Regions from separate parts of the Homo sapiens genome. Here regions 2, 3, 4, 5 and 6 are each linked to region 1. Evidence: fine-mapped expression QTL. A gene starts in region 1. Each other region holds a variant in brackets. All regions are shown on one strand. Distances are between the middles of the regions.

What was found. PIP is the estimated chance that this variant, and not a neighbour inherited with it, causes the effect.
Region 2: its variant is fine-mapped to the expression of SLC35F3 in stomach (GTEx, PIP above 0.99). The same link has a PIP of 0.9 or more in cerebellum, sun-exposed skin and unexposed skin.
Region 3: its variant is fine-mapped to the expression of SLC35F3 in substantia nigra (GTEx, PIP 0.98). The same link has a PIP of 0.9 or more in spinal cord.
Region 4: its variant is fine-mapped to the expression of SLC35F3 in thyroid (GTEx, PIP above 0.99).
Region 5: its variant is fine-mapped to the expression of SLC35F3 in whole blood (TOPMed, PIP above 0.99).
Region 6: its variant is fine-mapped to the expression of SLC35F3 in thyroid (GTEx, PIP 0.90).

What each region holds. Positions count from the first base shown.
Region 1 is chr1:233,902,310-233,907,383 of GRCh38, reverse strand. SLC35F3 (solute carrier family 35 member F3) reads right to left here and starts at 2,708. Exons shown (of 8, transcript NM_173508.4): 1 at 2,254-2,708; 2 at 1,626-1,855. The coding sequence starts at 2,306.
Region 2 is chr1:234,260,421-234,265,494 of GRCh38, reverse strand. All of the region lies in intron 3 of SLC35F3 (solute carrier family 35 member F3), which reads right to left. Among named protein-coding and RNA genes, the nearest start is that of SLC35F3-AS1, 10 kb to the left of the region's middle. The variant G/A (reference allele first, on the strand shown) is at 2,549.
Region 3 is chr1:234,213,450-234,218,523 of GRCh38, reverse strand. All of the region lies in intron 2 of SLC35F3 (solute carrier family 35 member F3), which reads right to left. LOC124904553 (a long non-coding RNA gene) reads left to right here and starts at 3,442. Exons shown (of 2, transcript XR_007066948.1): 1 at 3,442-3,656; 2 at 4,413-5,074. RefSeq lists an enhancer at 2,128-2,217 and silencers at 3,727-3,846, 3,897-3,996, 4,097-4,196. The variant A/G (reference allele first, on the strand shown) is at 2,772.
Region 4 is chr1:233,995,282-234,000,355 of GRCh38, reverse strand. The region is part of intron 2 of SLC35F3 (solute carrier family 35 member F3); the gene reads right to left. Among named protein-coding and RNA genes, the nearest start is that of SLC35F3, 93 kb to the right of the region's middle. The variant G/A (reference allele first, on the strand shown) is at 1,910.
Region 5 is chr1:234,293,445-234,298,518 of GRCh38, reverse strand. The region is part of intron 3 of SLC35F3 (solute carrier family 35 member F3); the gene reads right to left. Among named protein-coding and RNA genes, the nearest start is that of MIR4671, 10 kb to the left of the region's middle. The variant C/T (reference allele first, on the strand shown) is at 2,442.
Region 6 is chr1:233,924,035-233,929,108 of GRCh38, reverse strand. All of the region lies in intron 2 of SLC35F3 (solute carrier family 35 member F3), which reads right to left. Among named protein-coding and RNA genes, the nearest start is that of SLC35F3, 22 kb to the right of the region's middle. The variant G/A (reference allele first, on the strand shown) is at 2,116.

The DNA of each region.
Region 1 (5,074 bases):
TGTTGTACCAAACAGTCATCACTGCTGTAAGCTCTCTGGCAAGCCCCCAAATCACAAACCTTGGTGATAACTTCCACAAAGCACATACAGCCAGTCACAAATAGATTTATAAAGATAAAACCTTTTTATGACTTCAAGCACCAAAGAGATGACTTTATGAAGGCTGTCATTTATACCACTGTCTTTTGTTATTAAGGAAGCAGAAAATGGAAATAAGAATAGAAAATTGCTATTTTCTAATAGAAATTTAGAAAGCAGAAGTAAAACTTGAGCGTTCTATCCATGCCCATAAGAAATATGGTTTCCAATGGGGTTTAATTTTTGTTATCCCATGCCCAGGGTTTTTCAACCAAAAAGAGAATTTGGCCCCTTGTCTTCCTTTTGTAATAAGCTACAATTTTAGCAGCAGAGGCAAGAGATTGGAAGAGATACAGACAATTTTTTTAAAGGCTTATACCCAATGAAACACAGTCTTTTAAAAGCAAGTTGCATGAAAACAAAACATTCAAATCCTGTTTCTTCCTGCAAATAATTTTAAACTAACCAGCTAACTGCTAGCATACCACTGACCTTTGCCTTGGACTCGCAGGTTTTAGGAATAATCTAAAGATAGACATTTTTTTTTAGTGATGAATATGATTAAATTACAAACGCCCGTTTTCCCCTTAAAGACCAATAAATAATGTTTCAATTTTAAGCAATAAAAGGTCGAAAAAAACTCAAAATCAACAAGCTATTAATCTAGTCTTTATTACAAATGAAAGACGTCAAGGCCCATTTCTCATACGGACTGAGGTGGCAAATGGCAATCTCTTATGTCAAACTACAGTGATGAGACCACCTAATTATGGTTATATTTATAGATATCTGGATTTCATCATAATCAACCTCTCTCTTGCAAAGTGAGAAAAAGAAATGTCCACCAAATTAGTCCTGGTGACATAAGATAATGTCTGTCTAATTGATCACAGCATCCTCAAAGCCATTAGCTAGGACCCACGGAAAGAAAAACATTTCAGCTTCTCCACCTGACACCAAACATTCAACTTGCAGGGACCAACACCACTATCTAGAATGATCCCTATAGAACCTCCTTACTGAAGACCGATAAAATCCAGGGGAGAAGGGCGTGAACGGCATCCAAAATGAAGACCCCAAGAATTGTCCTCTATCATCAGGGCTAGGAGATGCAAGGAAGAGTTAAAATCCTGGCTATGTAAGTCAGCATCTCCATCTGAGCCTGGTGAGACCTGACCGAGGGCCCTGTGAGACTTTCAGATCCGCGGGGAAGCCACACTGTCCGGGATACTTTGAGTTTCTGATCTGTTTCCCACGGTCTGCCACATAGGAGTGTCCTCCGTATTTGGCAGTGGAGAGATAAGGATACAGAGAGATCCTGTGTGTGGGAGAGGAAGGGGTGTAAGAGAACGCATCAGAACGCCTCAGAGGTCCAGGAGAACTCCGTCTCCGGGCCTCTTCCTCGAAGTTGCAAACCTGGGTCTGTATCAGCAGGCAGGGCGGGAGGGGGTGGCTGGACGCCTCACTGCGTGCGCTCCCCGAGGCTGCTGTGACAATGGTAAGAAGATGGACCAGTGAACGGGAAACATGACGTGAGGGGGTCTTACTTTTGCAGCTCGCTGCCCAGGGCTGGTAGCCATAGTAGCCAGTGATGCGCAGGATCCGCTCCTCGATGGACGTGAGCCCCACCGGCCCGCTGGTGAGATCCTCCACGGAGCGCGACCATTTCAGATCCTCCTTAATCGCCTCGTCCACCACCAAGTACTTGAGCTGCCGGAGCTGGGGGCTGATGTCGGACAGTCTCCGGGGGCTGACGTCCGGTGACCTCCTCATGCCACTGCGGTCGCAGGCGCCACGGGCAGGTGGGTGGGCAGGGGGAGCATGGACAGAGAGGAGGGGATTCGTGAGGAGCAGATCCCAGGGCGAGAGCAAGAGCGCGGCCGGGGCCCTCCGGGGGCGAGCGCCGCGGCAGAGCCCGCGCTCCTCCCTTCCCGCCGCCACTCACCCACTTCCCCGGGCAGCTGTCCCCAGTGCCCTATCCTGGGCGTCTCGGGGCAGTGCGGGTTGGGGCGAGTGGCGAGGGAAAGAATGACTGAAACTTCCCGAGCAGCTCCACCGCGCGCGCCGCCCTTCCCCGAGCCTCAGACTGCCCAGTGTCCCAGCTGCAAAGGGCTACCCCGGCGCTCCGGCCTCCCGCCCGCCGGCTCGCTCACCCACGCCCGGGGCGCTACTCACACGGCAATGCTCTTGCCCCTGGGTGCGCCGCTGGGAAACTCTCGAATCCCCATAGGCAAAGACAGAGTGGGACCGGCAGCTCCCAGACTTGAGGCGGAGGGGCCGCGGGCCGGAGCTCCCTGCAGCCGCTAGCCTGGGAAGACTGGAGTGCGCTGCCCACCGAGGGTCTGCGCCGCGCCGGCCGCCCCGGGCCGCTTTGTGCGCGCCCGCGCGGTCTGTACCCGAGCGCCTCCGCGGCGTGCGGCACGATGCAGGCGCGGCGGTTCAGCCCGGTGACTCCAGGCCGGCCCGCGCGCTCGCCGCAACGACCCGGCAGCCGAGGCAGCGCCGCGCCCCACGCCCGTCACCGTCGCCGCCGCCCTAGCACACCGCAGGCGTGAGTCTCGCCGCGACCGGGAGAGCCCTCCCAGCTGTGCGCTCTCGAGGCACCTGGTCGGGCGGGGAGGCGTCGGGTCGGGGCGCACAGGGGCCAGGCGGGGGCGCTGCTGCCCACTTCCCGCCTCCCGGGCGTGCGCTCCGCCCCGGAGCCCGCACCTCGCGCCCGCGCTCCGCCTGGAAGCCTTGGGGCACCGGACGCGCTCCTCCACCCTTCTCTTTTGACTCAAACCCTGCCGCTCCCAGTTCAGTACTTTTCTCTCTCTCTCTCACACTCTCTCTCTCTCTCTCTCTCTCTCTCTCTCTCTCTCTCTCTATGTATATGTCTGTCTCTCTCTTTCTCTAAATTAGCAAAACTACTTGGAAAGAAAGAAACCTGGTTCCATGCTCAGCATGCCAAGTGAATAAATGGCGTTTCATAGGCAACGCTGAGACACAAAATGTATTATCTATTACGCTGTGGGGATCTCTCAGTCAGACCTGGTCCTCAGAGAGCTTACTTTCCCACTGATGATGCAATTACGAAATCAGTTCTCTCTTCATAGATTTCCATTTTAAAAGCTTCTCATCTTTTTCCTTACCACCCCACTGCCCCCGACGGCCGAAAGGCATTCTCTTCAGACTACCTAATCACCTTTCCTAATATTATTTTTCATCGGGGCAAATTTAGAAAAGATAGAAGTATGTGGAGAAGAAAATATCCATTATCCAGCCAAAAATGACGACTTTCAATTATGAACGTATTCTCTTCCAGGCTTTTTTCCAACGCAAAATACAGTTGTCACAAAAATCGGAATGAAATTGTACACACTACTTTATGTACTGCTTTTTTTATATTAAAATCATATTGTATAGCAGCAAACTATGAATAGAGGGGAACTTTCTCAACTTGAAAAAGAACATTTACAAAAGCGTACAGCTAACACCATGCTTAATGGTGAGAAACTAGAAGCTTTCCTGTTAAAATAAGGAACAGGGCAAGTATGTCTCTACTCAGCAATCCTTTTCAGCATCATACTGAAAGTCCCAGCTAATGAAATTAGACAAGAAAAGGAAATTAAAAGTATACGTATTGTGAAGGAAAAGGTAAAAGAAAACTGTCTTTGCAGCTGACATGACTGTTGATGTAGAAAAATTTCAATTGACAAAAAAACTCTCCTGTTACTAATAAGCAATTATGGTAAGATTGAAGGATACAAAATTAATGTACAAAAGTCAACTGCTTTTCTATATACTAGCAACGAACAATGGGAATTTGAAATTAAAACCACAATACTATTTATATTAGCACACCACTCAAATGAAATATTTAGGTACAAATCTAATAAATATGTACAATATCTATATGAGAAAAACTACAAAACTGTGATGAAAGAAATCAAAGAACTAAATAAATAGAGAGATATTTTATGTTCATGGATGGAAAAATTTAATATTGTTAAGATGTCAGTTCTTCCCAACTTCATCTATAGATTCAAAGTAATTCCAATCAGAATCCCAGGAGGTTATTTTGTGAATATCACAAACTGATTCTCAAGTTTATATGAAAAGGCAAAAGACCCATAATAGCCAACACAATATTAAAGGAGAAGAACAAAGTCTGAGGACTGATATTGCCCAACTTCAAGACTTACTATAGTTACAGTAATCAAGACAGTGTGGTATTGGTGAAAGAGCAGACAAATAGATTAATGGAACAGAATAGAGAGGCCAAGATAGACCCACACATAGAGTCAAGTGATCTTTGACAAAGGAGCAAAAGAAATCTAATGGAGAAAAGATCACCTTTTCAACAAATGGTGCTAGAACAACTAGACATCCAATCACAAAAAAAAAAAAGAAAGAAAGAGAGAAAAAAAGAAAAGAAGCTGGATACATAGATACAGACCTTACACCTTTCACAAAAATTAACTCAAAATAGATCATAGACCTAAATATAAAATGCAAAACTATAAAACTCTTAGAAGATAAAAAGGAGAAAACCTAGGTGACCTTGGGTTTGTAAATGACATTTTAGATACAACATCAAAGGCATGATCCATGAAAGTAAAAATTGGTATTGGACTTCGTTAAGATTAATAACTTCTGCTCTACAAAAGACACTGTTAAAACAATGGGAAGAAAAGCTACAGACCAATAGAAAATATGTCAAATCATATACATGATTAAGAACTGTAATAAAAAATAAGAATAATTAGAACTCAACAATAAGAAAATGATCCCAATTAAAAAATTGGCAAAACAGCTGAACAAACATATCAATAGAGATGATATACAGATGGTAAATCAGCACATGAAAAGATGCTCCACATCATACATCATTAGGGAATTCCAAATTAAGACAAAAAAGATGTATTGCTATACACCTACTAGAATGAATAAAATCCCAAACGCTGACAACATCAAATGCTGGCAGGATGTGGAACAGCAAGAAGTCTCTCATTCA
Region 2 (5,074 bases), 360 kb before region 1:
CAGGCATCAGAAATAATGCTGAGGCTGGATGCAGTGGCTCACACCTATAATCCCAGCATTCAGGGAGGGTGAGGCGGGAGGATCGCTTGAGTCCAGGAGTTGAGGCCAGCCTGTGTAACATAGCAAGACCCCATCTCTACCAAAAAAACAAAAAGAAAAAGAAAAAGAAAAAAAGAAGAAATAATGCTGAGATTTTTGGCCTGTGCAACTGCAAGAATGGTGCTGCTGTAATTCAAGGTGGGGAGGATTGTGAGAGGAATAGAACATGAAGGGTTTGATTTTTCACATGTTATATTTGAGATGTCTACTTGCTATTCGAGGGCAGGTGTTGAACAGGCTGTTGGTTATAGGTCTTGGAATTCATGAAAGAGGTCCAGGCTGAGGGCATGCATCTGGGGGTCATCATCAGGGAGACATGAGACAGGAGGGGCTCACCTAGCGAGCAAGCGTAGACACTGCAGAGGAGAGGACAAAGGACTGAGCGTGGGGCCCTGGACTGTTCAGAGTTCAGGGAGGCCGGAGGAACCAGTAAAGCAGCCTGAGAAGGAACAGCCAGAGAGGAAGGGAGATGACACAAAAAGTTCAGTGTCCCAGGTAAACAATAAGGAGGGTTCAAGTGTTAGCTTAGGTAAAAGGAATACTGGCCAGGTATGGAGGAGCATGCCTGTAGTCCTGGCTACTCAGGAGGCTGATGTGGGAGGATCACTTGAGCCCAGGAGTTTGAAGCCAACCTGTGCAACACAGAAAGACCCCATCTCTACAAAAAATTTAGAAATTAGCAGGCATGATGGTGTGTGCCTGCAGTCCTAGCTACTCAGGAAGCTGATGTTGGAGGATCATTTCCGCCCCAGAGTTTGAGGCTGTAGTAATGATGGAGCTATGATCATGCCACTCCACTCCAGCATGGGTAACAGAGCAAGATCCTCTATCAACGAGATGAAAAAATAAAAACAAAAATTAACAGTAAGATGACAACTAAGAATGGTCACTGGATTTGGCAACATATGACTCTGATAAGAGCTCATCCATAGTGGTGTAGGTTTAAGAGAGAAAGGGAGACAGAGTACAGACTACTCTTCCGGTAAGTTTTGCTGGATTCAGAGAGATAAATAAGGTGGCACCTGGCCAGGTGTACTTTTTAAATTCTTAGAGCTATCATATTATAATGAGCGATGAACATGATCCAGCAGAAGGTGGGAACAACTGCTGGAGTGAGGTCCTTGAACAGACACCAAGTGGAAGGTTCCTTGTGCACACCTGGTGGGTTAGTCTCAGGGTGTGGTGAATGGTATTTGGATATTAATCCTTTTCAGTTATTTGTATTGCTAATATTTCTGTATTGCTAACATTTCCTCCCAATTTATGGCATTTTTTGTTGTTGTTGTTAAGACAGAGTTTTGCTCTGTCGCCCAGGCTGGAGTGTAGTGGTGTGATCTTGGCTCACTGCAACCTCTGCCTCCTGGGTTCAAGTGATTCTCCTGCCTCAGCCTCCTGAGTAGCTGGGATTACAGGTGCCTGCCACTATGCCTGGCTAATTTTTGTATTTTTAGTAGAGACAGGGCTTCACCATGTTGGCCAGGCTGGTCTCGAACTCCTGACCTCAGGTCATCTGCCCGCCTCGGCCTCCCAAATTGCTGGATTACAAGCGTGAGCCACCATGCTGGGCCAGCATCTGGACTCTTAAAAGCTCCCCTGGTGATTCTAATGTCAGCCAGCCTTGAGCACAAGTGTCCTAGCTTTCTCGTGGGTGACACTAGTAAATCTCAAGTGTTGGCTGTCTCTAAGTGCTGCTTCTAGGATGTCACCCTGCCCCAGTGGTTCTTAAACTTCAACTGCATTAGAATTACCCAGAGGATTGGGCCTCATCCCCAGAGTTTCTGTTTCAGGTCTGGGGTGGGACCTGAGACCACAATTCCAGCAAGCTCCTGGGTGGTACTCATGTTCTTGCTCCAGGGATCACATTTTGAGAACCTCCCAGCCTTAAATCAAGGCTCAAAATGCTGTTGCATACTCTCCCGAGTCAACAAAGCCCATAAATATAGACGCAAGCAAGATGAATTTTACCTAAGATTTCACAAGGGAGGTGGAACAGAGGGTTTATTTTGCATACTAAATAATAATTTTAATAAGAGTTAAAATTCTCATCAGAAATTCCTGTACTCCTTTAACATTCTTTTAGCTCTCTTTAAAATTTTTGTTCTTTTAAAATTCATATCTCTTTTAAGTTCCCCATCCTAAATAGAACCTAAATATGCCTTAACTCCTAGTCCCCAACTCCCAGATTTTTCTCATCATGCTTCTGTTAGTCTCTCCCTTTCTCAAACAGAGCTTCTCAGTTTTGGCCCCTGCAGGTAGCACCCGGACCAGGATTAGCAGGATCAGTCATCTGAGGTACATAGCAACTCCTTTTTTTTCACCAGCAGTCTTGTATGTGACTTATGTGTGTGATCCCATCAGCAGGGTACCCATATGCAAAGCCACATGATCACTGGCATATCTGCTCCGGATACAAACTGTAGCCCAGAACTGTGGCAACCTGGGAATGTAA[G/A]CAGCTTGCTCTTGTTCCAAGGCCAAGTCCATTAGTCAAAGGGCTGTTTGCCTAATAGAGACTCAGCTCTGTGTTAGAATACAAACAGTCCTGTTTTCCCAAAGCTAGCTGAATTCCAATAACCCGCACCTTGGGGCTGGAAAGGAGAAGTGGGGAACAGAGCCTGTGACTTGGTGGTGCAGAGGGTCTCACCACCTGCCCTCAGACCACAACCGGAACCGCATTCTGTACCAGTGCCTGAAGCTGTTGCAGCTTGCAGCTTACCTGCAGGATCCAGGCTGATAGTATGGGCACCAGAGAGGCTTCATTTGGCATACTCAGGTCCTAATTCTGCCAAAGTCAAATGCCAGCGGCCCTCCGGAGGACCAGGAAGGGAGTAATAAAAACAGCTTACCTAGAAGGAAGTGGAACTGTTTCTTTCTCCTGTAAGAAGAGCCAGATCCTAAAGCAGCCACTGCAACCACCACTCCCAGGACAGACACCACCATTCCTGAGTGCCAACCACATGCCAGGCACTGGAGAGGGCTTTCATTAATGCATGTATTCTCAAAGTATTTCTTATAGTCATATCAAACAAGCTTGTTACATCAGTCTATTAACCCTATCTCACAGGTGAGAAAACAGAGGCTCACAAGAAGAAATATCTCGCCTAAATGCACAGCAAGCAAGTCAGTGCCACAGCAGGGCTCTCCCCCTGCTAGTCCAACGTTATCCTTCTCACTGATAATTACTAGCACATTGCTTCACACTCTTTCTCCCTTTCCTAAAGTAACTCCCTCCCCTTTGTAGCACATTATAGAATGCCTTGAAAGTTGAGGTTTTCTTAGTCATCACTTTACCCTCCAGCATTTAATATGGAGCATGGCACATTGTAAGTGCTCAGTAAATATTTGTTGAGATGAACACCAACAGCTTCCTACCCAACCAGGCAACTGTCCTGGGGTGAGCCTTAGAGGCTGGGGAGATGTCAATACTGTGGAGATAGAAAGGTGAAGGATTTCTCATCTGCAAACCCAAGTTTGAGTCTCTGCCCTGCTGTTCACTGGCTGTACGACACTAGTTAAGCCCTTTCATTTTTCTCACTCACCTTATCCATGCATATCCTTAGCGGGTGCAATAGTGTTTCTAAATAATAACACCTCACTCCTACCAGCATGATCACTATGGGAATCCCAGGCTTGTCACACCGCTTTTGTCAGAGGCATTTGAACAAGAGTGACTCCATTTTGAATAGAGTGTGGGTAAAATGAGACCTGCTGGGCTGCATCCCCAGGAGGTTAGGCATTCTTAGTCACAGGATGAGATAGGCACAAGATACAGGTCACAAAGACCCTGCTGATAAAACAGGATGTAATAAAGAAGCCGGCCAAAACCCGCCAAAACCAAGATGGTGACAAAAGTGACAGCTGATCATCCTCACTGCTCATTATACACTAATTATAAGTCATTAGCATGCCAAAAGACACTCCCACCAGCACCATTACCATTTACAAATGCCACGGCAACATCCAGAAGTTATTCTATATGGATATAGGATAACTATATCAGTTATAGATCCAGGAATTCCCTCAGTTCCAGGAATTCCCTGCCCCTTTCCCAGAAAACTCAAATAAACCACCCCTTGTTTACCATATGATCAAGAAACAACCAGCAGCCCTTAGGGCTTCTCTGCCTATGGAGTGGCCGTTCTTTTATTCCTTTACTTTCTTAATAAACTTGCTTTCACTTTATTCTGTAAACTCACCTCTAATTCTTTCTTGCATGAGATCCAAGAACCCTTTCTTGGGGTCTGGATCAGGACTCCTTTCTGGTAACACTTTCTCGGGAGGTAGCCTGGATGGGTTGCCACCAACAAGCCCCACTTAGCATTGTGTTAGCCAAAATTTTACTTAATACAATTATTTTCATTTTTAAGGGAAAAAGAATTTCGGTCCTTAAACTCTTCCATTTTTCTAGGTTTGGCTTCATGTGAAGCAGAAAACATAAGTTGCTCATACCTGTTTTGATGTTTAACTATTTCCCTCTCATGGGAACTCTGTGTATACTTGGAGGTTACAATCGAGGGAGGCGAACACAGGAAGTCCGTGCAGTAAAGTGTCTTGTTCTTGCTGTTGGGTAACTTTGGTGGAGGAAATGGAGGGAGACGTGAGGCACTTATGTATGCGGAGTTTCTCCCGGTGCCATGTGCTTAATCAGGAAATGACTCACCTGAGCCTCATACTAACCTGACTACATTAAGATCGTTTGTTATCCCCCTTCTATAGATGAAAAAGATGAGGCTCTGCAAAGTTAAGCAGGCTGTCCATAGTATTAAGATAACTGAATTTCATATCCCAAGTCCTGACCCCAGAATGTTACCCCTCAGCCTAGGCTAGTCTTACCGTTCAAAACTCAAAGAAGGAGGACCCAGTATGGAAGACCATGATCTCCGTCCAGAGGGCTCTCTGGGATCCTGAGCAGAACTCATATAGAGAAACCCCAAGCTCCCCAGGTGACTTCTGCCTTAATTCCAGATGGCCATCGCTG
Region 3 (5,074 bases), 310 kb before region 1:
CTCTCCTAGCATAGTACCTGCAATATAGGAGGCATTCATTAGCAAAAACTATTATTTGAGTATTAAGAGCAAGATGTCATCACCCCTCCTTTCCTAGGACGGAACTGATTCCTGGAGAGCTTTATTCATTAGCCAGAAATCACTCACCTAGCATGACAGCTGGATAGACCCAGTCCATCTAATTCCAAAGCCCTCACCCTTTCCACAACACTACTTGCTGCACGCCTCTTGGGGGAATTCATTGTACTGTTCTCAATGATTAATCCCTATTGAATGTAATTTCACTGAACATGAATGAGTTGATTGTGAGTAGAGCTGATCCCAGTAAACACTAGTCTATTAGAGATGTGCTACTGACCAATGCTCTGCTTCTGAAAGGAAAGCCAAGCAAAGGATCTGTGAAAACAAGGTATGTTTTTAGACATGACAGATGCCATCAATCTCGCCAGAACACACTTTTCAAACCTTAACCCCTATCTAAGGCCCAGCCCCACTCTCCTCATGCTTCTGGGCTGAGCCCTAGCATCCATGTTCTCTCTGCCTGAAACTGCCTCTCCTCCCCTCTGCACCAACAAGCTTTCTCATATCCCCCCAGCCTCAGCTGTGATGCCTCATAAGGCCTCCTCCTCAGGAAGGCCCCCTCCTTAGAATGGCTCCATCTTAGAAAGGCCTGTTCCTCAGGAATATCTCCTCAGAAAGGCCTCTTCCTGAGGAAGGCTTCCTTCTTAGATGGCCTCTTCCTCAAAAAGGCCCTTTTGTTAGAATGGCCTCCTCCTCAGAGATCTTTCTGAGGAGGCTTCCCCGGCAAGGCCTTCTCCTTAGAAGCCCTCCTTCTCAGAAAAGCCTCCTCTTCTTAGGAATATCTTCTCCTCAGAAAGGCCTCTTCTTAGAAAGGCCTCCTTCTCAGAAAGGCCTTCCCCTCAGAAAGGCCCCCCTCAGAAAGTATTCCTCTGTAGAAACCCTCCTCCTCATGAAGGCCTCCTCCTCAGGAACACCTCCTCAGATTGCTCAACTCTCAGTGTCCCCGTGACACCTTGCTTTTCAGTTCGATACCAGAACTTACTACTTTGTATTTGATAATTTATCTATCTATCTGTATGTCTCTTCCCCTCTAGACTAAAACGTCCTTAAGAGAATGAAGCTAGAATTGTTCCTTTTTGCCTTTCCAGGGCCTTGCTAAATTGTCACAGGACACAGAGTAGGGTTGGATGAAGTATTTGTTGAGTAAATGAAGTCATCTTGCCCATCTTCCTGTGTTTGAGTTTAACCAAGCTTTGCCTTTTCTATTTTGGTTTTATATGTACCACATGCTGGTGCCTTCTTGCCTCCCCTTAGATGACACACTCTGCAAGCTAATAAATATTCCTCGCTGGCTGCATTCCCTCCCTGTAGCCTGTCTGCCATCCATACAGAAACACCCACAGCATGGGGACCACCTTGCCCTGTGCATTCAAGTTAAAATGAAATGATTCAACACTTCCAAAACCAGCACATAAGATGCAAATGGTTTCCAAAAAATAGACCAAAAGCCAAACTGAATAAAAACACCAAGGAAAAAAACTAGGCAGAGAGAAAGAGCTATATGTGAGCCAGGCATACCAAGAGCAGGTTTTATGAGGCCCCGAGGGGCAGAATTTTGCATGGGATACTTGTAGGTATCCCACGAAAAATGCAACTGGGGGCTTGCCAGGCATTTTCAGCTACCTCTACCTTATTGCATCTCCTCACAGCCTGCTGAAGTAGGTTGTTCCTTCTCTTTTACGTTTGCGGAAACTGAGGCTGTGTTCGTGATTTACACAAATCCAACTGGAAAAGGGGCAGGGCCCAGTCTTGATCCTCAATCTCACCATTTCTTAGTTCACTATACATTTCCGTTATCCACAGGCATTTATGAGGAAATGCTAGTTCCAAAGCCAAGCCCGTGGCGAGGCAGCTGCTGGCGTTAGCAGGTGCAGGAGACTCAAAGCTCTTTTGGCAGCAGCCCTAAGGGACTTTTTGGGGGGTTGGTGGTTAGTGGGAGATAATTTTCACTTTCATTCCCTGAAGGCAACCTCCAGGCTTGGCCATAGGGAAGTACCTGTGCCTCGCATGCCACTCACTGCCTCCTGCAGCACCTCTGAGGCCACAGCACCCAGTTCAGGTAGCCCCACCATCCGCGTCCTGCCCCACTTCCAGTGCAGTTCGAACCTGTCCTGCCTAAGGTGGGCTGGGAGTTTCCCAGGGAGACCCCCTGCTGCTGGAGAGCAGAACCAATCTGTCCTACTAGGAGGTAGGAGTGGGCAGCTTCCCATGAGGACCCTATGAGTGAGCAGACACTCACTCCCTGCTTCCCTCAGAGAAATAAATGGCCAATCCTTCCCTCCCCAATTCACACATGCATGTGGGCAATGTCTGGGTAGGCTTAGAAATACAAACACCCCTGGAAGAGGTAGCACTTGCACTAAACTCAGGTGTAGATGGCTGATATCAAGTCATTCCTGAGGTTGGGATGGAGGAGAGAAGAAGACAGCCACAAGAAGGAAAAAAACCCAACCTCCTAAAGATAGAAAATGTTGAGAAATAGGTAAGTAGTTGCAGTTCAGTGCAAACTGATGTTCTGGAAAAAATGCTTGAGCTTTGGATCGGACAGCCCAGGATTCCATTCCTGCTTCACCACCTACCAACTGTGGGTCTAGGACACGTTAACCCACCTTGCTGGGCCTCACAGTGCTCCTCAGTAGGATGGGGATCACAGTACTAGGGCAGCTGCAGGCAGGCCTGTGTGGACAGCT[A/G]AGCTTGGGATATACAATTACCAAGCCAGCCTCTGTCTTGTCCTCGCTGGTTCTGAGATTCATTGTAATAAACAAGAAGTCACGAGTGGGAAGCAGGGTCAACAGTAGCCTAGAGAAGTCCAGGCTTCCTGGGAAGGGCAGAAGCCAGGCTCTGTCGGAGCCCATGGCTGCCCCTCATTCACCGCTGATGCTCATGGGCTCTGTTAGCTCAGCACAAGCAAAAGCCTAGAGGGGAGCTCCTGGGACCCAGGGGATGGTCTGTCTGCCTCACCTGGCCAAGGTGGCTTGCTCCTGGCAGAGGGAGTTAGTCATTCCACCTCTGCCTCCTGGGAGGAGGAGTTAAGAACTGGGACTGGCCCTCTGCCCCCCTTCTCCATTGGAAAGCAAGGCCCCTTAGGCCAGCAGAAGCCAGCTGTGTCTGAGGAAGCTCTCCTCGGTGGGCTGCTTCTTCCCCTGTCCTCTCGCTCACATTTCCTGGGTGGGAGCAGTTCCAGGCAGAAAGGACAACACGGGGAGGAGGACACCTTCTGGGGGCCTCTCACAGCCCTTCCAATCCCTCTCCAGGGCCTGGGAAAGAGCCTGTTTACAGACTGGTGCTGGCTCTTCCCTCACCTGTGCGCCCCGCCCATTCCCAAAGAGCAGGGCAGTCAGTTGGCTGGTGGCCGGAAAGGCTTCGGAACACGCAGGACAGACGTCTCCTTAGCCCGCTGCAGCCCTCTCCCGCCTCTACCAACTGCGGGCAGCACCTTTGGTCGGCCTGGGGGTGAGGCACAGAGCTCCACACCCAGGCAACTCAAGTGTGTGTGTGGTAAGGGGACACTGGGAGCGGCTGGACGACCCCCTCCTGCCGAACAGACAAGAGCCCCAGGACAAACTGGGATGGAGGTGAGGGTGCAGCTGCTGCCAGATGCGCTGGGTGCTGCCCAGGAAGGAGAGGGTTGGGGAGCCGGGTGCTCACTCGCCGCAGCAGCTCACTCCTGCTCGCCAGGGAGCTCAGGGCAGCCCCTGAAGCTGCCAGATCCCCCCACGCAGGCGGCGGCGCTCTGCACTGCGGAGCCGCGTCCTGGGGGAGCAGTACCCCCAGCCCCGGCGCCCCGCAGCCAGACAGCCCCCCTCAGGGTGGCAGCATTCCCCGGCTAGGGTGCAGGGACCCCCGGGGCGAGGCGGCCGCGCATTACCTTCCACTTTGGTAAGGGTCAGGACCGGACTGTTGCAGGCGCTGAGCGGGGCCACCCGGGCCGAGTGCTTCTTCATGATGAGCCGGCCGCCTGCAGGAGCGCTGCCGCCGATCGCCTACATCCTGGGGCCGGCTGGAGCGCGTCTCTCCCGGGCCCGTGGCCGACGCGGCCCTCTGCCGCCGGGGAGCACCAGCGGCTCGCCCCTCTCAGTCCCGGCCTCCCCGGCTGCCCGCCGGGCTCCGGTTGCCGCGTTGCTCACTGCGGCGGCCGCCCTGCAGCGCACATCCTCCCCGGCCGCGCAGCCACTCCACACACACGCGCGCACAGCCTCCTACTTGGAGGTTGCTGCAAACTCCAACGTCACGTACAAGTGCACTCCCTGCTCCCACCCCGCAGCTCACCTGCTCCGCCCTCCTCCCCGGGACGCCCAGCCCCGCAGCCCTCATCCCTGTCTTCCTCCCAGCCAGGTCCTGACTGCAGCCTCTGGCCACCACCTCTCTGAGAAGCCCTTTAAAAGGACCAGCGCCTGCGGAGGGGAGACCCTGAGAACTTAAGCCTCAGCGTTGCACAAGTTTAAAAAGGGAAGTGCTTGACTTTGGATTGAGAGTTGACTCTTCAGTGTGCGGAAGTCCTGAATTATTTCACAGGGAGAGTTAGAAAAAGCAAAGCTTCCCAAGGCTGCCATTCACTTCTTGAGTCTAGAGGCACATTATCTTGTCTGGCCCCGTGGACAGCTATTTTTTTGCGGGGTGGAGTGGGGGGTGGTTCAAACACCACAGAAGCAAAACAGCCACAAGAAAACAAAGGCTTGAAGAGATTTCTGCTCCCACCCCACCGCCTCAGTCTGGAGATCCAAACTCACCTCGGTAGCAGGAAAGCTCCTTTTCTGCCCAGCTCCCAGGTTCTTGCTTCAGCTGCAGATCTGACATTTGCCTCTGCAGGCACCAGCTTCACTGCTGGCACTCAGACACAGCTGTAAGCTACTGGCCGATGGTGCTCATTAAAAAGCTATGACATATACCTATTGCATCACTTGCCAGCACAATCCCTGAGTGACCACTGAGTCCGGAGGGGCATTTATCCCATGACAGTGCATCATCAGAGGTGCCCTGCTATCATCCCTGC
Region 4 (5,074 bases), 93 kb before region 1:
AATGTCAATATCAAACCTATATTGAAAGCAAAATCAAAGTGAAAGGCAAGGAGTTAAATTCCATCTTTAGTTTCTGAGTTGGACTGCAATCCTAACTAACTACATACATGCTTATTGCACTAGGAATAGGGAGCTGTTTTTCACCAATGAAATGGAACGCAGCCCATGTTTTCTACTCTTTGCGTATATTAATTCTTTGCTTAGTTAGAACCCTTGTGATTCACTGTGAGTATTCATACTCACTTTAAAAATCTTTGAATATCCTCGTTACACAGCGATCAGAGTTTTTGTGATTAAGAGGATGCATTTTGTGATTTTATATAGCCCTTTAAAGGGCTTTTCTAGGAACATTGTCATATTGTGCGAGAGAGTTCAGGGGTCATTCTCATGATAAAAGGACTTTGCTTTAAAGAAGAAATCATATCCTAAATGTTGAAATGTTTTCATTTATTTATTCACTTGTTAACAAATCTTTATCATCTTCTGTGTTTGGTATACTCATGCAGTGAGGGATGCAGAGAGGTAAAGATGCCATCCCTGTTTTCACAAATGTTAAAGTCTAGAAAGGAAATTAATGCAAATAAATACACTGTAAGGTAGCACAAACAGAAAATACGAGGTATGAAAGAGTGTGCTGCAGAGCACAAATGGGCTCGGCCACTTGCATGGCAGAGGCAGCCTTTGACTGACACTGGGGGATAGAGTCTCAGTAGGCAGGAGAGCAGGGCCGGAAGGGATAAGTGGAGGCACTGAAGATGGGAAGCGAAACAGGAAACAAGCAAAGGCACAATACAGGAAAGCTGAACATGTGCTGAAATGACAGCAAACAGTCCGGCAAAGCAGAATCCCCACACGGAACAGCAGAGATCAGCCTGGATGGCATCGAACCTAGGCTTTGGCTTCCAGGAAATAAGGAGCCCTTGGAAGATATGGAGCGGCAGAGAAATAGGATAAGAGTGGTGCTTTGGGGAAACTGTTCTTGTGACGTGCTGAATGGAGGGGACAGGAGAGACAATGGACACAAGGTGACAAGGCCTAGAAGGATTAAAAGAGCTCAGAAGCTCTGCCGTGAATGATCACTCGGAATTGGTGCTAAAATATCCTGGAGTTTATATTCTAAGTCAGTGGGTAATTGGGACGCGGTGGAAAAAACGTGGGATGACCTCAGCTTGTCTCAGGAACACAGCTTAGACAAAGGGGATACCCTGGGTTGCATCTGTCCTGTCTTGTCTTCCCAGCTTGAGGCCAGGAACTGACAGTCATATCCAGATCCCTAATGCTTGCTATGTAGTAATAATGGAAAAATGAGAACTCTGACAGCTGCCGTCTGTATTGAGCATGAGGCTCAAGGGCTTTGCATAATTACCCTATTTAACTCCATCAGTAATCCTATAAAGTAAGCATCAAGGGCTGTACTCTGTAGGTGAAGAAACTGTCTGGCACCCAGAGGCTGATACTTGCAAAATATTTATTAAAGTACTCATCATTAATAAGTACCAAAATGATCACGTAAGAACACATCAGTAAAATCCTCTATTTCCCACTATCATCAGATATTAGATGTTCCTTTAACTCCTGCTGCTATAACTGTCACAAGCCACATGTGGCTATTTAAATTTAAATTAATCAACATTAGATAAAATTTAAAATTCAGTTTCTTAATAAGACTAGCCACATTCTAGGCGCTTAGCAGTCCCATGTGACTAGTGTCTACTGAGTTGAACAGTTCATTAGAGAACATCTCCATTACTGTTCTTTTTGATAGGGCTTTTTTATAATCTCGTATGATTTCCTGAGAGAAATCCCTTCCTAAGTGGAAAATCACTACACTAGTCAGGCATAGCATCTCCTCTGAAGAGTCCTCCACATTCCAGCCCTGTTCCATTACATTCCAACAAATGGTCATTCT[G/A]TATCTGGTATAATACTCAGTAAGTGTTGGGAACACAGAGAAAAATCCGACATGATTTTTGCCCCGAAAGAGTTTATAGCTACGTAGAGGAAGAAGAGATATATTAATTATATAATTAGATGCTATCATATTTGCAACACATATGACAAATCCCTGATATCCAATGCATATAACAATGAGAAGCTAGCTAGGTAGGAGAATGATTGAATTGGGCATACTCATAGGATAGAATACCACAGGGGCAGTTTAAATGATTGAACCAGACTTTATTTGCTTATAGTATGAGACATTAGAATTTAAACACGCAGAACCATAGTATATATTATATATGAATACACACATATCCATCTATAATGCTTTCGTTTTTAATTAAAAATAGACTCGAAGAAAATACGGGCTGGGCGCGGTGGCTCACTCCTATAATCCCAGCACTTTGGGAGGCCGAGGTGGGTGGATCACCTGAGGTCAGGAGTTCGAGACCAGCCTGACCAACATGGTGAAACCCCATATCTACTAAAAATACAAAAATTAGCCAAGCATGGTGGTGGGTGCCTGTAATCCCAGCTACTTGGGAAGCTGAGGAAGGAGAATTACTTGAACCTGGGAGGCGGAGGTTGCAGTGAGCCAAGATTGTGCCATTGCACTCCAGCCTGGATGACAGAGTAACACTCTGTCTCAAAAGAAAAAAAAAAGAAAGAAAATATGAACATGTTAGCAGTTGTTCATTCCCACTCAGAATATTATATTTCTCAAAATAAAAGAAGTGAAAGAGCATAGAAAAGAAAAGAATCAGTATTGTGGTGCAAGAAGGAATGGTGTGCCCCCAGGGAGAACGATGCTTATTATGAGGGTAGGAGGATCAAGAAAGGCTGAAAGTGGGATCTGAACGCATGTTTTTCCAAAGAAGACATACAAATGACCAACAGGTATATGCAAAGGTGCTCAGCCTCACTCATCATTGGAGAAATGCAAATCAAAACCACAATGAGATATCACCTCACACCCATTAGAGTGACTATCATCAAAAAGACAGTATAGATGAGGAGGTGGAGAAAAGGAAACCCTTTTTTCATTGTTGTGGGGGGAGTGTAAATTGGTACAGCTATTATGGAGAACAGTATGGAGATACCCCCAAAATTAAAACTCAAATGATCATTATGACCCATCAATCCCTCTGCTGGATATATACCCAAAGGAAATGAAATCACAAGCTCATCAGATGTCTGCACGCCCATGTTCACAGCAACACTATTCAGAAGAGCCAGGATGTGGAAGCAACGCGAGTGTTCAACCACAGGGGAGTGGAGAAAGAAATTGTGGTGTATATATGCAATGGAATAGTCAGCCTGAAAAAAGACGGAAATCCTGTCATTTGTGACAAGATAGATGAACCTGAAGGACATTATGCTATATGAAATAAGCCAGACACAAAAAGACAAATACCAGATGATCTCACTTACATGTGAAATCGAAAAACACCCCAAAATGTCAAATATAAAATGGTGGTTACAAAGAGTAAGGGGTGGGGGGTCACAGGGTCACCCAATATGGAGTCAAATCCCATTCTGCCAGTTGCCAGCTATTCAAATTTCAGCAAGCCTCTGAACCAAGTCGAACTTCAGTTTTCTCACTTTTTAAAATGGGATGAGATTGCCTGCTTGCTGAGAGTATCGAATGAGAGAGTGCAAATAAGTGCCATTCGGCACAGAGCCTGGTCCCTCCCAACCCCCAATGATGGCTAATCATTATTAATCATTGTAGAGTGGAATACCCTTGGACACACCCTATGTGTGAGTGAAAATGATCACCATGTGAGGAAATAAATGCCTTGCCATGGCACATTCCAAAGAGGGAAGGGTTTGGCAACCAGTGTGAGGCTGTCAGGGAACCCACAAATTCCCCCCAAGTCCTCATCCTCCCCTGAGGATGTCTCTTAGCTCACTTTTCCTCACCTGAATTGGCAACCCTTCCAAATTCACACCTGGTGGGCCGAGCACTAGGAATAACACATGCACATACAGAGTTGCCCCTCAGTATCCATGAGGGATTGGTTCCAAGATCCTCCTCAAATACCAAAATCCGAGGATGCTCCATTCCCGTAGATAAGTAGCATGGTGTTTGCATATAACCTACACACATCCTCCTATATACTTTGTTATCTCTAGATTACTTATAATCTCTAACACAATGTAAATGCTATGTAAATAGCTGTTATACTGTATTGTTTAGGGAACAACGATAATTTTTTAAGTCTGTACATGTTCAGTACAGACACAATTAACCGTTTTTTCCTGAATATTTTCAATTCTTGATTGGTTGAATCTATGAATGTGAAACCCAGAAATATGGAGTGCCAACTGTGTATATATATAAAATATTAATAAAATGCTCCAACTGTTCAAAGATGTCAATAAAATGCCCACAGTTGAGGACAATTCAATTTTGTTCAATTGATAAGTCTGCCAGGCACTCAGAATAAAGATAAGAAAAACTTTGCTTTCCTCTTCTCTCAAGCTATGCTAATCCTAAAGGAGCCAGAAAGAAATGCTAGAAAAATATACTAGAATGGGGGTTAACCAAGAGGCTGCAGATGTTTGATTTAGCAGTAGGCACAGGTCCCACCCGTTACAGTCCTGCCTCCTTGCTGCAGGAGGGATGTAGTCCACAGGCTCACTGACTTTTGAAGGCTGCTGAACTTGTAACAATGGGGTGCCCAGATGCATGCCATGAGACACGTGCTGTTTACCAGGGATAAGCAGGGACCTTTGCCTTCCTCTCCTCTGCTGCTGTTGTTATACTGAGACTTGTCCAAGAAAAGCCTCCGCGTGAAGTCATCAGAAAATATGTAGAAGCAATTTGGGATGCTGACTGCCTGGCTGACTTTATCACAGATCAAAGCAGCTTTCCCATCAAAGATCAGTAATCAGTCTTAACACAAGTGGAGGGATCAGGCATCCTTAACACTTCATTTAAAATAAATGCTCGCCCATGAATATGGGAATATACAGGCAGAAACGCCAGCCAGGCTCAGGTTTATCCATCTGGCCAGGGGCTCCCACCCTCTATCTCCACAGCTTGCAATCATGCCTGACTCTCCTGCCATCTCCTTCACAACAAACCATTCTCTGCCCTCATTCAGAAGCACTAATGGCAAATCCCCACTCC
Region 5 (5,074 bases), 390 kb before region 1:
ACCTAGGGCACTTGCTAACACTTCGTCTAAGCCACTATCATTTCTTACCTAGATTATTATTATCCTTCTTTCATACCTTTGTCTCTTTCTTTTAAACATAAATCAGACCATGTTATTTTCTTGCTCAAAAACTTTCATTGGCTTACCATCTTCTTTGGAGTAAAAAAGGTAAATATGGGGGAAGATCTGGACATGGTTCTTTTCCTCACCCCTTCAGATCTCTGACCAAACTTCAGAGACCTTCCCAGACACCCTCTATAAAACAGTAACTACACTACCTCAATCACTTTCAGCATACCTTAATCCTTCATTTCTTTTTCTTTATCACTCACACTGTCTTTCTCTGAGATGTCACATATTTACATTTCTCAAAAAAAACCTGTCTTTATTGAGGTATGATTGACCTAAAAAAGGCAGTGCATATTTAATGTATACAATTTAATGAGTTTGGAGTAAGTACACACCCATGAACTCCACAATTAATGCCACAAATATATCCATCACCTCCAAAGTTGCCTCAGCCCTCTTTTTTTGTGTGTGTGTTAAGAACACTTAACATAAGATTTACCCTGTTAGCACGTATTTAAGTATATGCCACAGTATGAGTAGCTATAGGCACTCTACTGTACAGAAGAGCTCTAGGACTTATTCATCTTGCATAACTGAAACTTTGCACTCTGACTAACTCTTCCCTGTTTTCTGCCCCCCTTATCCTTTGGCAACCACCATTATACTCCTTGCTTCTATGAGTTTAACTGTTTTTTTTTTTTTTTTTGAGACAGGGTATTGCTCTGTCACCCAGGCTGGAGTGCAGTGGCATGATCATGGCTCACTGCAGCCTCAATCTCCAGGGCTCAAGTAATCTTCCCACCTTGGCCTCCCAAAGTGCTAAGATTACAGGCGTGAGCCACTGTGCCCGGCCCAAGCTTAACTATTTTAACTATTCCCTTATATTAGTGAGATCATATAGTATTTGTCCCTTTGTGTCTGGCTTATTTCACTTAGCATAATGTCCTCTAAGTCCATCGATGTTGCCCAGATGGCAGGATTTCCTTCTTTTGTAAGGCTGAATAGTATTACATGTTGTATACATACCACACTTTATCCATTCATCCATCAATAAACATTGAAGCTGGCTATTGTGAATCGTGCTGTGGTAACATGGGAATGCAGACATTACCTCTTTAACATACTGATTTCAGTTCCTTTGTATATATACCCAGTAACGGGATTTCTGGATCATATGGTAGTTCTATTTTTAATTTTTTGAGGTATCTCCATACTGTTTTCCATGGTGGCTGTACCCATTTTCATTTCTACAACGGTGTACAAGGGTTCCCTTTTCTCCATATTATCACTAACACTTGTTGTCTTTTGCTTATGATGGCAGCCATTCTAACAGATGTGAGGTGGTATCTCACTGTAGTTTTGATTTGCATTTCACTAATGATTAGTGATGCTGAGCATCTTTTCATATACCTATTGGCCATTTGTATGTCTTCTTTGGAGAAATGTCTATTCAGGTCCTTTGACCACATGTTTTTTTTAATTGTCTGTGTTCAGCCACTGTAGGCAAATGTTTCATTAAAAGAAAATGTAAGTTCAAGGCATTTGCAGCCTACAAGAAATTTTAGTTTCTGAGATTTTCCCTTGAGGACTGGTCCAGCCTGAACGATAAGGTCTTGGAGAGGGAACGTGGAGAAGCACAGACTGCATATATGTCTCACTAACTAGGAGTTTTACAGCCTCCTCCACAGGAATCTGTTCTTTGGGGACCAGCTGGTTATTTTGCATGCTCAGTCAAATAGCAGAGGTATCTGAGAAGTGCCGAGAGTGTGCCTGTTCCCAAAGCATCGCTGGTCCACAGGGCCCCTGGCCAACTTGCTAGATTCACAGTGAAGTGATTCTGAGCTCTATGACAAAGGTGAAGATGGAAGTGGCAAAGACAGAGATGACTGACAGCCTCCATTTATGTCTGGATACTAAGATGGCAAGTGAAGCAGTCTGGCTACTTAGGAAGGACGGACCTTCTGAACCTCTGCACATTTCCTTCCAACCTGAAACAGCCTCTCCATATCAGAAACCACTCTTCCTATTCTAAAGAGTCCATTAAAATATTGCATGGAATAAATCTACTCTGAATACTTTTGTTTGTGATAGTCCACTTAACCCAGTGAGGTTACACACTAGGTTTTTTTTTTTGAAGCAGAAAGACCCCATAGGACCATCCCTTGCAAAATGTGATTTTTTTGCGATGGACGTAGGAGATGAAGAGCAAGCTGGAGATGGGCTCTAATGACAGCTGTTAGTACTGAAATGGAATAGGCGGCTCAGGAAAGTGTCAACCTTCTGCTTTAAGAAAGCACATCCCTCCGCAAAACAGAGGGAAACAGCGCTCAGCTCTTGTTCAACAGGTACCAGAAAATAACAGCTGCTGGGCT[C/T]TCACTTCTATGTTCCTGCTTTTTCACAACTTCCACATCAGCAATGATTGGTTTGAGTTTCACTAAACTGTCAAGAGATGAACCAGGAATACATTTGTATAACACATGATCCAACAGCATTTATATCCCAGAGTGGAGAAGACACAGCAGAGTGTGTGGACCTTTACTTGGCTCCTTTAAAAGAAGTTGGAACTCAGACTCAGTGGGAACAGTGGAGCAACACCAGATCTGAGGGTGCCCGTCAGAGTCCCAGAATGGGACTCCACAGCTGTGGCAGGTGTCTGTGTTCATCTGCTGGCTGGCCTGGCTTTCTTCCTCAGGGGTGGTTATTTATTTAGGGCTTTGCAGTGGTAGAAAGGAGTATATTTAGCTCGCTATGAAAAAGAATTTTCAAATAATTGTTTAACAAGAAAAGCAGCTGAGATTTCAAAGCTGGGCTTGCTTTTGTACCCCCACACCACATTTCAGGGATCTAGGATTCTAACAGTGTGGAAAGACAACCAATGAAAATTCCAAACATTTGATGAGATTTCCTGAAGACCTTGGGCGAGCAGCACTCCCTCTCAAGCTCAGCCTGGCTCCCGTGCTTGCAATCGAGAGACTGACACTTGAGAACTGGCCTGACCAATGTGCTCTTTGCATTTGTCACCATGAAAGGGAATGGAAATTGGGTACACATCCGTGGGCAGAATGGCAATCTTCAAAGCCCAAGCTTCGCAAGGCAGCAATGCAGTATCCAATGAGCTATCTCACAGAGCTACCCCACAGATATTCAAGAACGTGTAATGGGATAGTTTAATTACCCTATGGGAATTCCAAAAGGCTTTCAGCCCAACTGTAGTCCCTTCGTCACTCATGTTAATGTCACCTGCTGTCCTTGGCCTTTCTCAGAGGAGCAGGAACAATATCTTGTCCTAGTGATCTGTCACTAAAGCAGGCTGCAGGAACACAGAGCTGCCATCACAGGGCCCAGCTGGGACAGCGAGGCACTGAGATGGGCAACCTTCCTCGCTAGACAATCATGACATTTCTCTGCATCTGGCTGAACTCAGTTTCTGCCTCAGGCCCCGTGGGCTTCAGAAATTTGCAGATATCCCCTTGCTGCTGTCTCCTTCATGGAGTTACTGGCTCTCTCCTCTTCCATGGCTTTCTCTTTGACTTTGGGTTCCCCCCCCAGGCACCCTGTAAATCTGCCCCCATAATATTCTGTGCCTCCCTCCCTCCCACCTCCACAGAGCTCTATCATGACTGTTTACATAGCTGTCTCTCCTAGCAGAGCACGATCTCTTCCTGGAAGAAGGAGCCTGTGTCTCAGTCACCTTTGTACCTTCCAGCATCTAGGATAGTGCACAATCCAAAAGTGGCAGTCAGGAAATATTTGTGAATAAATGAGCGGAACTCAGCGCTTGACGTTTAGGCAGATTTTGCCAACGTCAGCACATTTATACTGCCAGAAAGTTTAGCAAGTGGGTATCTTAAAACTGTGAACTATCAGTTGGCAGGGACGTCAGAGCTCCGACTTCCGTACTTTAGATGTAGGAAAGCTCTGGCATGGATGTGATGCATTCTGCCCAGGGTGATGGGGAGCTAGTTAGTAGCAGGGCTGAGTCTAGAACTAGGGGCTCCTGATTCAATTCCCCACTCTCTGCATTTATTTTAGTGAAGCCTTAATTGTGGCTGATGTGCTGGGTAAAGTGGAACAATCTTTACCAGAAAGAGAGTCGCTGCCCACCTACTCTGCTGGCCGAGACAGAGCCAGGAAACAGAGCCAAGCCTGTTGCAATGGTGGTTCCTTCGTTGCTTCGGCTCAACGCTGTCGAGGGACCTGTGTGGAGTGCTGAGCCTAAGGAACCTGCCTCCCTGGGTGTTGCAGGAAAGGGTATGTGGATTTGGGGTTTATTCCCTGCAACTAATTATGCAGATGTGTAGGCAATGCTCTTTGCTATTTTCAGGAGCTGTGTTAAAACTATTTAAAGACATGGGCATAGATTTGTCTTTAGAAAAGAAACATTCAGGGGAATTATCCCAAGGGCTCTCCCTCTGGCTTATGATTTATGCTTTTAGAAAACAGCCTCCTTCAAACTGAAGAGACATAACGACTTGTGGAATTCAGCATCAAATGAACAGGCTGTGTTTTCCTGGTCTCAAACCTGGAGTAAGACGAAGATGACCCCAATTCAACAGCTTTTGAAAAATCAGGATCATTCCTAAAGAGAACAGTTTTATGAAAGTTGAAATTAAAGGTTGTTATATCTCAAGGGCAAGAATGCTTATGGATGGGGTCAACTCCATAATGTGCCTTTTTGGATAACACTGATTTCTATTAATTGGAAAGCTTTTCAAGGCCAGCCCCAGGAGACTGGTGTGTCTGGGTGCACTGGTTTTGAAGGCAGATGTGCTGTTTGGGTATGTCTGTCTCTCTTTCTCTCTTCCTCACACACACAGCCAGAACTGCCTACATCCAGACCAACAGCATAGACTTTAGAGCTGGATGGATTTCCATGGCACATGCTGATGGCTTCTTGTAAATATAATTTAGATTTGACTAACCATCTAAATGTGTGCTCCCTGGCCCTGCATGTGATGCGGATCAGAGACATGCATAGTTCACCCTTGAAGACGACACAGAGATT
Region 6 (5,074 bases), 22 kb before region 1:
TCATGGTAGACAGAGTACTGCCTTGCCCTCTGACTTGGGGTTGACCATGAGACTTATTTTGGCCAAATGTATTCTATATTAACAGACATGAGGAGAACACAGGCTTTAAATGTTTGTACTATTGCTTGAAGCCACTAAGACTTTATTTAAATTTAATTTAATTTTTAAATTGACAAATCAGACTTGTACATATTCATGGAGTGCATAGCCATGTTTCAATACATAATAAGGTATAGAGATCAGATCAGGGTAAGTTGCCAGGAAGCATTACACAGTAACAGCTCGCTGATACTACTTACCACCCTGCATTATTTTCGGAAGTCGAATTATATTTCAAATATATCAGAGAAGCTCTCCTTTTGAAAGGGCCCTATAATGAACCCCTTTCATAAGATTCCTTTTGTAAGTCAAGACTTTCAACAATAATAATCTAATATTAACCAAAGTTGTCACTAACTAGCCACCTTCCAAACACCAGTACTGTATTCAGCCCTTTGGATGCATTATCTCAAAATATTTTCAACAACTATCTGAACTAGAACTGTCATTTTACGGAAAAGGAAAAAGGAAAAGTAGGTTCAGAGAGGCTGACTAGTTTCCCCAGAGCCCAGGCAGTAAGCAGGTAGCGGGATTCAAACTCAGCAATGACTAATTAAGTCCATCATCTTAATCACTCTACTATATTCTCTCTCAGTAGATTTAGGTTATGTGTAAAACTGCAGGTTCCAATTATTATTATTATTTGTGAGTAAAGGAAAGGGAGAGACAGTGACTCACTCACTCAGTGATGTGCTCACATTTCTTCTAAAAAACTATTTGATAAATTACCTCTTACAGAACCCATAGTGTGACCTCAGTGCTCAGAAAATTATCCCATTTCTCCTTGGCTTTACCAGAAAATTTGCTCACTATAGGTCGACTTGACTTCCATGATTACTGCTGCCCATTGTTTATTGCTGGCAACATGTGAGGAAGCAGAGGGCTAGGGCTTATGCAGAAAATTTACAGTGCCAAGAACAGGGAAGTTGGAAGGGTTTATCAGAGGTCTTCAAACATTTTGACTTCTGTACCCTCCATAAAAGACTTCTGAAAAAAAATGTATCATGTTTGAATGTTTTCATTCATTCTGAATCTTTTCCATAATAAATTTGAAAGTTATAAGATATGATTTTCAGAATTTATAAATATTAATACTTTAAAATAAAGCTACTACATTACTTTTTATATCTATTTAAGGAATCTAATTACCATAGTTATTTGATACCAATAATAATCTATTTTAAAATACATAAATGATAGTTTTCTTTAGCAACAAGCAATTTTATACCATTCCATTTTCTCCCTTATATATTTATCTGTGAAGCATCATGGACATAGATCATACTCTGGGAGACAAAAATTAAGTATAAGAATGGAAATTCAGTTATTTAATTTTCTGTGTCCATATGTATTTTAGTGTTCAAAAATGTCTTCTGAATTGGGTTAAAATTTCAGTTTTTATTAGTACTTCAAATGAAAATTATGTAAACATCTCACAAGTTCGATAGTTATTTAACATAAAATTATTAGAATGCGTCTCTTAGTAAAATGGACGGAAATTTTTTTAAGTAGTACACGTGCCCATACATGAGTATTACTGCTAGAATGAGAGAGTTTAGCATCAATCTTATTCTTATTTTTTGTTGTTATAGGTATAAATTTTGAAAAACCATTTTGAAGTAAATTAGATGATACAAATGTAAAAATTTTCTTATGGAAATAAATATTATTCAATGAGTTAAGCTCATTCCTACTTACATATCAAAAATTACAGAGATCAATCCAGCAATCTAACTCTTTAACATTTACCCAAAGGAGTTGAAAACTTATGTTCACACAAAATCTACACATGATTGTTTGTTTATAGAAACTTTATTCATAATTACCAAAACAAATCATGATGTCTTCCAGTGGTAAATGGATGAATAAACTGTGATACAGCTAGACAATACAATGTTATTCAATGCTGAAAAGAAATGAGCTATCAAGCTAAGAAAAGATGTGCAGGAACCTTAAGTACATGTTACTAAGTGAAAGAAGCCAATTTGAAAAAGCTGCCTACCAGCAACATTTGCC[G/A]TTCTGCAATATTTGCTGTTCTGCAGCCTCCGCTGGTGATACCCAGTCAAACAGGGTCTGGAGTGAACCCCCAGCAAACTCCAACAGACCTGCAGCTGAGGGTCCTGACTGTTAGAAGGAAAACTAACAAGCAGAAAGGAATAGCATCAACATCAACAAAAAAGACAACCACACCAAAACCCCATCTGTAGGTCGCCATCATCAAAGACCAAAGGTAGATAAAACCACAAAGATGGGGAGAAACCAGAGAAGAAAAGCTGAAAATTCTAAAAATCAGAGCACCTCTTCTCCTTCAAAGGAACGCAGCTCCTTGCCAGCAACGGAACAAAGCTGGACAGAAAATGACTTTGATGAGTTGACAGAAGTAGGCTTCAGAAGATCGGTAATAACAAACTTCTCCAAGCTAAAGGAGGATGTAGGAACCCATCACAAAGAAGCTAAAAACCTTGAAAAAACATTAGATGAATGGCTAACTAGAATAAACAGCATAGAGAAGACCTTAAATGACCTGAAGGAAATGAAAACTATGGCATGAGAACTATGTGACGCTTGCAAAAGCTTCAGTAGCCGATTCAATCAAGTGGAAGAAAGGTATCAGTGATTGAAAATCAAATGAATAAAATGAAGCAAGAAGAGAAGTTTAGAGAAAAAAGAGTAAAAAGAAACGAATAAAGCCGCCAAGAAATATGAGACTATGTGAAAAGACCAAATTTACATCTGATTGGTGTACCTGAAAGTGACAGGGAGAATGGAACCGAGTTGGAAAACACTCTTCAGGATGTTATCCAGGAGAACTTCCCCAATCTAGCAAGGCAGGCCAACATTCAAATTCAGGAAATACAGAGAATGCCACAAAGATACTCCTCGAGAAGAGCAACCCCAAGACACCTAACTGTCAGATTCACCAAGGTTGAAATGAAGGAAAAAATGTTAAGGGCAGCCAGAGAGAAAGGTTGGGTTACCCACAAAGGGAAGCCTATCAGACTAACAGCGGCTCTCCCAGCAGAAACTCTACAAGCCAGAAGAGAGTGGGGGCCAATATTCAACATTCTTAAAGAAAAGAATTTTCAACCCAGAATTTCATATCCAGCCAAACTAAGCATCATAAGTGAAGGAGAAATAAAATCCTTAACAGACAAGCAAATGCTCAGAGATTTTGTCACCACCAGGCCTGCCTTACAAGAGCTCCTGAAGGAAGCACTAAACATGGAAAGAAACAACTGGTAACAGCCACTGTAAAAACATGCCAAATTGTAAAGACCATCGATGCTAGGAAGAAACTGCATCAACTAATGAGCAAAATAACCAGCTAACATCATAATGACAGGATCAAATTCACACATAACAATATTAACCTTGAATGTAAATGGGCTAAATGCTCCAATTAAAAGACACAGACTGGCAAATTGGATAAAGAGTCAAGACCCATCAGTGTGCTGTATTCAGGAGACCCATCTCATGTGCAGACACACATAGGCTCAAAATAAAGGGATGGAGGAAGATCTACCAAGCAAACGGAAAACAAAAAAAAAGCAGGGGTTGCAATCCTAGTCTCTGATAAAACAGACTTTAAACCAACAAAGATCAAAAGACACAAAGAAGGCCATTACATAATGGTAAAGGGATCAATTCAACAAGAAGAGCTAACTATTATAAATATATATGCACCCAATACTGGAGCACCCAGATTCATAAAGCAAGTCCTTAGAGACCTACAAAGAGACTCAGACTCCCACACAATAATAATGGGAGACTTTAACACCCCACTGTCAATATTAGACAGATCAACGAGACAGAAAGTTAACAAGGATATCCAGGACTTGAACTCAGCTCTGCACCAAGAGGACCTAATAGACATCTACAGAACCCTCCACCCCAAATCAACAGAATATACATTCTTCTCAGCACCACACCACACCTATTCCAAAATTGACCACATAGTTGGAAGTAAAGCACTCCTCAGCAAATGTAAAAGAACAGAAATTATAACAAACTGTCTCTCAGACCACAGTGCAATCAAACTAGAACTCAGGATTAAGAAACTCACTCAGAACCGCACATCTACATGGAAACTGAACAACCTGCTCCTGAATGACTACTGGGTAAACAACGAAATGAAGGCAGAAATACAGATGTTCTTTGAAACCAATGAGAACAAAGACACAACATACCAGAATCTCTGGGACACATTTAAAGCAGTGTGTAGAGGGAAATTTATAGCACTAAATGGCCATAAGAGAAAGCAGGAAAGATCTAAAATTGACACCATAACATCACAATTAAAAGAACAAGAGAAGCAAGAGCAAACACATTCAAAAGCTAGCAGAAGGCAAGAAATAACTAAGATCAGAGCAGAACTGAAGGAGATAGAGAAACAAAAAACCCTTCAAAAAATCAATGAACCCAACAGCTGGTTTTTTGAAAAGATCAACAAAATTGATAGACTGCTAGCAAGACTAATAAAGAAGAATCAAATAGATGCAATAAAAAATGATAAGGCAGATATCACCACCGATCCCACAGAAATACAAACTACCATCAGAGAATACTATAAACATCTCTATGCAAATAAACTAGAAAATCTAGAAGAAATTGATAAATTCCTGGACACATACACCGTCCCAAGACTAAACCAGGAAGAAGTTGAATCCCTGAATAGACCAATAACAGGCTCTGAAATTGAGGCAATAATTAATAGCATAGCAACCAAAAAAACTGTAGGACCAGATGGATTCACAGCCGAATTCTACCAGAGGTACAAAGAGGAGCTGTTACCATTCCTTCTAAAACTATTCCAATCAACAGAAAAAAAGGGAATTTTCCGTAAATCATTTTATGAGGTCAGCATCATCCTGATACCAAAGCCTGGCAGAGACACAACAAAAAAAGATAATTTTAGACCAATATTCCTGATGAACAACGATGCAAAAATCCTCAATAAAATACTGGCAAAACAAAT